Regions from separate parts of the Homo sapiens genome. Here region 1 is reported to be linked to region 2. The links are microRNA targets in miRTarBase. Many come from high-throughput screens and were not tested one by one. Region 2 holds a microRNA gene; the other region holds the end of a gene's coding sequence.
What was found. Region 2 holds the annotated microRNA hsa-let-7f-1-3p (CUAUACAAUCUAUUGCCUUCCC, at 1,732-1,753, opposite strand). A microRNA usually pairs through its seed, bases 2 to 8, with sites in the 3' UTR of a target mRNA and lowers its output. Matches are read on the target gene's strand: a 7mer-m8 pairs with bases 2 to 8, a 7mer-A1 pairs with bases 2 to 7 and ends in A, and an 8mer does both.

Region 1: miRTarBase lists ALG10B as a target of hsa-let-7f-1-3p. Seed matches in the 3' UTR shown: 7mer-A1 at 2,495-2,501, 7mer-m8 at 1,503-1,509 and 7mer-m8 at 1,030-1,036.

What each region holds. Positions count from the first base shown.
Region 1 is chr12:38,320,702-38,324,007 of GRCh38, reverse strand. ALG10B (ALG10 alpha-1,2-glucosyltransferase B) reads right to left here. Exons shown (of 3, transcript NM_001013620.4): 3 at 1-3,306. The coding sequence ends at 2,795. Among named protein-coding and RNA genes, the nearest start is that of ALG10B, 5.6 kb to the right of the region's middle.
Region 2 is chr9:94,174,856-94,178,161 of GRCh38, reverse strand. It overlaps MIRLET7F1 (microRNA let-7f-1), which reads right to left and starts at 1,815; the gene lies at 1,729-1,815. It overlaps MIRLET7A1HG (miRlet-7a-1/let-7f-1/let-7d cluster host gene), which reads right to left. Exons shown (of 5, transcript NR_170278.1): 2 at 2,197-2,297. It overlaps MIRLET7A1 (microRNA let-7a-1), which reads right to left and starts at 2,205; the gene lies at 2,126-2,205. LINC02603 (long intergenic non-protein coding RNA 2603) reads left to right here. Exons shown (of 3, transcript NR_160773.1): 3 at 431-1,593.

The DNA.
Region 1 (3,306 bases), not on the chromosome of region 2:
TCCAAAGAGCAGTCTTCTTTAATTACAGGGTAGAATATTTTCCTCAATTTTGCCAGACTAGATCAGAGTGGAAGCTTCTCCTCTCAGAAGTATTCCTAAATACAAAATCCTTGCATTAATATTATCAGACAAAAAGTTACTTTCCCTAAATTACACATTCTTTTTTCAATTTTGACTTCCCAGATTTAGTTCTCCACTATAGTAAATTAATGACAAAAGTATAATTTCTTTGAGTGTCCTCTCTCATCTAATTTTTAAGAAGTCTGGGTAAAACACGTTTTTCTACAATCACTGTTATAACTAATGCCGATCTATTTTCTGAGTACTAGAGTACAACCAAAAAATGGCCTGCATTTATTACTCAAATTATACTTGTAATTTTCACCTGCACACAATTTTATATTTGTAAATGTAGACTCATCACTTAAAACTCAGAGAAGCAAAATTTGACATTGAGGGGAAAGTAATTTGTTCACTTATAGCTACTTTTAAAGTTTAGAAACATAAAATTATGTTAAAAGATGAGTTCTATTCACAATTCTAAGTTTACATGTCAAAGTTAACATGCCCAAATAATACTTTCCTGTAATGGAATGACAACCCAAAAAATACACTCAAAATAATAAACACAAAATTCAAAAAGTAACACAAAATAATCCTACCCCAGCAGTTGTTCCCTAATCTACAAAGTCAGACCAAAGGATTTCTCAACTTTCTTTCAATTCTGACTTTTTTTAATAGATAATGGAATCAAACACTAGTCACCTTTAGCTTTATATTACCTAAGAAGTCACTTATTTTTTAACCTCTCAGTAAAGATACTGAGAGTTATTTAAAAGGTATCAGCTAAGATATTATCTCCTGATCCAACAATCCCACTTCTGGCTATTTATCCAGAAGATTTGAAATCCGTATGTCAAAGAGAAGTCTGCACTCTATGTTCATTGCAGACAAGTCACAATAACCAAGTGATTCGATCAACCTAAGTGTCCATCCATGGATGAATGGATAAAGAAAATGTGGCATATATATACAAAAAAATACTATTCAGCCTTTAAAAAGGAAGAAATTGTGTCATTTGCAACAATATGGATGATCGTGGAGGACATTATGGTAAGTGAAATAAGCCAAGCACAGAAAGACAAATACCACATGATCTCACTTATTTGTGTAATCTAAAACAATTAAACTCACAGAAGTAGAGAGAAGAATGATGGTTGCTAGAGGCCGGGGATGTGGGAATAGGGAGATGACAATCAAAAGATACAAAGCCTCAATTAGATAGAAGGAATATGTTTGACTTTTTTTAGATCTATTACACAACATGGTGAATACAGCTAATAATTAAGCACTGTATGTACATTTCAATACTGTTGAGAGTACATTTCAAATGTTTTCATCACAAAATATGTCAAATATTTGAGGTGATGGATAGATTAGCTTTATTTAATCATCCCACATTATATTCAAAAATCATAATGCCACTTCGTACCTCATAAGTATATACAACTATAATTTGATATATAATAAAAAATTTTTAAAGGTAGTCTCCTAACAATCATATGAGGATTATCCTAAAATGTCCTTTAGTAACTGTCATGGACTGAAAAGTATCCCATGAAGAGACAATGTCTACTCAGAACATGTGAATACAAACTTACTTGGAACATGGGTCTTTGTAAACATAATTAAGGGTCTCCAGACACAATCACCCTAGATCAGGGTGGGCCCTACATTCAAAGACACTGTCCTTAAAAGGTAATGAAAAGACAGAGGGAAAGGCCGTGTGAACGCAGAGGCAGAGACTGGAGTGAAGATTGCTGTCTGCAATACTTAGACAAGATATGCCCATAAGCCAAAGAACTCCAAGAATTGCAGACAGCCACAAGATATTAGGAAACAGACATAGAATGGATTCTTCCTTAGAGCCTCCAGAAGGAACCAACTCTGCTGACACTTTGATTTTAGACTTCTGGCCTCCAGACTGTGAGGAAAATTGTTGTAAGCACCCAAGTTTGTGGTCATTTGTTATGGCAGCCCTGGGAAGCTAATACAATATGTATTTCATAAAGGAAATCCCCCTTTTAAAGGATTATAATCAACACAATTTGTCTTTGGCCATCATACATTTCATATTAGGAATTAGTGAAAGAGCTTCATCATTTCTGGATTGTAAACAATAACCAACAATTTGATGCCTAGACAGACATATATGAGTCTCTACTTTATCATTTACTATCTATGCATTTCTATTTTGACTTAGAATTAAAATTATATTTACTGAAATGTTAAGGAACTTTTCAGTCAAGAATATCACCTGACCATTTGTAAATATTTGCTAACACATTGTTATTAGGTTGGTACAAAAGTAATTGTGGTTTTGCCATTACTTTCAATGGCAAAAACCACAATTACTTTTGCACTAACCTAATAGTTCTCTCTGAAGAGAATAAATTAGTTCTAGTAATATGAAGCATACCCAGTTTTAATAAACTTATACATACAAAACATTCCCAAGCTTTGTGAGGGGCCAACATTACGAGAGCGATATGAGATATCTGAAAACAATTTTATTTTCCCATTATTCAGGCTTTTGAAGCAGGTCTTAAGCTTTCCCAGTTCTTTGCCACTTAATTTCTTACATATGTTTAAAATATATATTAAAAAAACTAATGTAATTTGAGGACCACCACTGCACCTAAAAGAAATTCCATGTTTTCCACCTATTCAGTTGTTCTTTGTAGAAATGGTCTAATTATTAAGTCCATTTTTACAGTTCAAAATATCACTGATATTACCACATAAACCTTTGAATGTCCTGACTATTTGGCCACTGAAAAGTCTTGTTCAGAAAGATGTAAAAAGTTATGAAATTAACAATTGCATAGCAACTCAGTTCACAAACAAGTCTGGATGTGGGAGGCAGAGTTATGTTAAGCCTATAAATGACATAAGGTAAAATGAAGTAACGAAATTCCAGCAGTTTCTGAGGAACTATAACAATGAACAAGCATATGAAAAACATTAAATTCCAAAAAATTGGCTTTGATTTCAATGAGTCAGCTATACTCCAACCAGCAAATATATAGGCTGGAACTAACAAATATTTCAGAATTGCATATCTTTGAAAAACTCTTTTCCACACATAGAAAGTATAATGTCTATTGTCTGCTAGCAAGTATTTATGAGCATAAGTGAATTTCCAAACTAAAAACACAGAGACTAAGGTAACCACCAAAAACAGAATTCCATGTTTCCAAACTAAGGAAAGAAAAGTCTTAATTTTGCTAGGAGACAGGAGATGAG
Region 2 (3,306 bases):
TCCACCCGCCTCAGCCTCCCGAAGTGCTGGGATTAGAGGTGTGAGCCATGGTGCCCAACCCAGTTACCAACATTTAAATATCAAATTTCATAAAATCTCCAGTCTCTCCTGTTAACTGGAAAAGTAGGTGACAATGTATATAAACCCTGCTTGCTACCTATCAACCAGAGCAAATTAATTTACTATATTTGCCAGTTACAACTAGCCCCTCCTGGGCCTCTGATGGTATTTCAGTTTTTGACCCCTGAATTAAAGCAAACAGAAACAAATTCTGATCATGAATTTTATCATCATTAAAAACAAGCTTTCAGAGATAGTCATTCTCTCCATAAAGGCATTTTTAAAGTTTTATTTCGATTTACTTACTCTGCTTAGCTAATAACAATGTCCTTATGTAATTAATAAAATATATAAATTAATTTTTCTCCAGGGCTTAATTATTAGATAAGGATACGTTTCCAACTGAAGGTGGCAACGTTATGCTGGAAGAACATGTCAGGAAGACCACAAAATTTCATGACTGTACTTGCTACACTTTCAGCAGAAGAGTTATACATATTTTCAATTCAACAAAGATTAAGCCAAAAAGAATTCTTAGAACATTCCCACTCTTCTTTGGCACATCAAAAGGCAACAAATGTCATTTTCTCCCATGTTTTTATGTGCAGTTTAGAACAAAGACCAATTATCTATGCAGCTGTCCACAGTGGATAAAACAAAAAGCATACATTTGGTCCAGAGTTAAGTCACCTGGGTTGGGCCCATCCAAGGAAGTTTGATGTTTCTACTCTCATGAAAAGTACCAATGGCACTGCACAGTGATTATCTTAGATATTAAGGATAAACACAAATTTCTCCTTAAATTTCCATTTATTGGAAATGATTGGAGGGAGGGAACTTCTCCCTCACCTCCACACTGCCTCTTTTCCAACTCTTCTTCCAACACAAAATAGTTTAAACAGCAAGCACTTAGAGAGCTTTTAGCCTTGCTTGTTGATTACAAGGCCCAAGTTAGTGTATGGTTTGCCCATCGGAGGAAAGCTAAAACATGGGCCTTCATGGGTATTAAAATTGAAGAAACCTTTTCCAGCATTTTTTCTATTTTCTTTAAAGTAACAACCTATGGACTTCCCCATCTGACATTTTCGAGTGATCCCACTGTGTGAATGAAGGACTACTTCAGGGTTTGAGGGCAAAGCTGAAATCTTAGCAACTTACCAGTGAGCAAAGGTAGAACCCAGAGCCCATCTCTCCTTTTCCAGGCTGCTGAGTAAAGTCTGGCTCAATCAACCTATCAATGAAGCAGTGCTTACAACATTCTCCAAGACCACCCAAAACCCAAACTGGAAATGAATCATGACTAATCTGACTCATTTTGGCTCACACAGTGCCCTTCCAATTTGTATTTACCTTTACCACCCAGGACCTGACCTTGGACATGTGTACCAGGATGTAAGGCAATAAACCTATTCACAATTCCAAAAGGGCCTGGTCCTCTATGAAGATTTCCTGAAGGCTACTTACTTTCTCTACTCATTAAAATTTTTGCTTAACTTCAAATTTCTGAAATATACCATATGTGAAAAATTTAAATGTTAATCTGTGCCTACTGTACTACTTGAACAGAGAAAATTAACTGATAAACTGTAAATACAAAATGTCAAAATTAATTCTTCTGAGTTTTAATATCATCTAAATAAAAAGAAAATAATGCAGCAAGTCTACTCCTCAGGGAAGGCAATAGATTGTATAGTTATCTCCTGAACAGGGTAAAATCACTACCCCACAACTATACAATCTACTACCTCACTCTGATAGAGCAATGTTTTCTTCTGGAATGGAAAGTACAATCTCTTTCGAAAGAAAATTTCAACATAAAATTATCAGCATAAATCAAAATAAAAAAATACATTTATTCTGACACAGAGAAATAAGACAAGAAGCAAAAGGTTTCCCCACCCCCATCCAGTGTACTTGCTACAGACTTTATCTCTAAATTAATTTATTTCCAGGCCATAAACAAATGCTGCACTACATCTCTTTAAGACAAGTTAATCTTAAATATTGTACAATTAGTTAACTGACTTTCTATCAGACCGCCTGGATGCAGACTTTTCTATCACGTTAGGAAAGACAGTAGATTGTATAGTTATCTCCCAGTGGTGGGTGTGACCCTAAAACTATACAACCTACTACCTCATCCCACAGTGAAGAGAACATCCAGGGTGAATGGTGAAAAGGAATCACAGTTGAGCACCACAGGAAGGCTTTTTTTCCTCCTCGGTAATCCTGGTTTCCTGTGTGAGTGATAAGAAAAATAGTATTAGACCATTTTCATTCACTTACGTTGAAAATGAAGTTTAACTGAACATTTTGGCTACATGCATAATCTATGCTGTGGTTTCATTTCCTGTATTTCATTAATAGTATTTTAAATGCTTGGTTATCTGAATCCGCTCCTAAAACCATGTATTTACAAGATTCAGAAATCACCCTCTTACCACCACCTTTTACTATTATTAACTGCTGGTTTTCTTACAGTTCCTACAAATGAAAATGCATGAAATAACTTATCCTTCAAGAAACAACAAAAAATCATTACAGAAAAACATGACAGCCTCTAATTAAAAATCCAATGACTTCAAAACCCAAAAGTCCTGTACATCATGCATAATCCAAATGCACTAACATACAACGAGATAATATAAAAAACACACACAAATAGAAACTAATTTTTAAAGGAACCTACTCATTTATCCCATGCGAGCAAACACTAAGTGGTCTTATTAGGACTAAATCAAAGATAATCACCTGGATCTGATTCAGGGTCAGGATCCTTTCCTTTAGATAGAAAGGTAATATGTGGATTGAAGGCAGAGTCCAAAATCTTTAATAAACCCAAGTAATCTAAACTGTATTATTACCCTTTAATTTACAGACTTCATATTTAGGAGGTAGCTACTACGAAGATTATCTTTTAAGATAGGGACTAAATTTATTTTGTAGTGATTTAGTAACCAAAAGCACTAATTTTTAAAATTACAAAACGTAATAAAAAACATACGGCTCAATATAATAGAATTTAAAGTCTAGAAATAAACCCATACATGGGTCAACTGATTTTCAACCATGACAAGACAATTCAACTGGGAATCGTTTTTTCAACAAATAATGCTGACGGCTGTATAGCCACATGCAAAAAAAATGGATCTGCATTCTTTGTAAACTGGTGTGCAAAACACACATTAAAGTAACTTAAAACAACCTAATTTAATGGTAAAATATTTTAATAGATATTTCACCAAA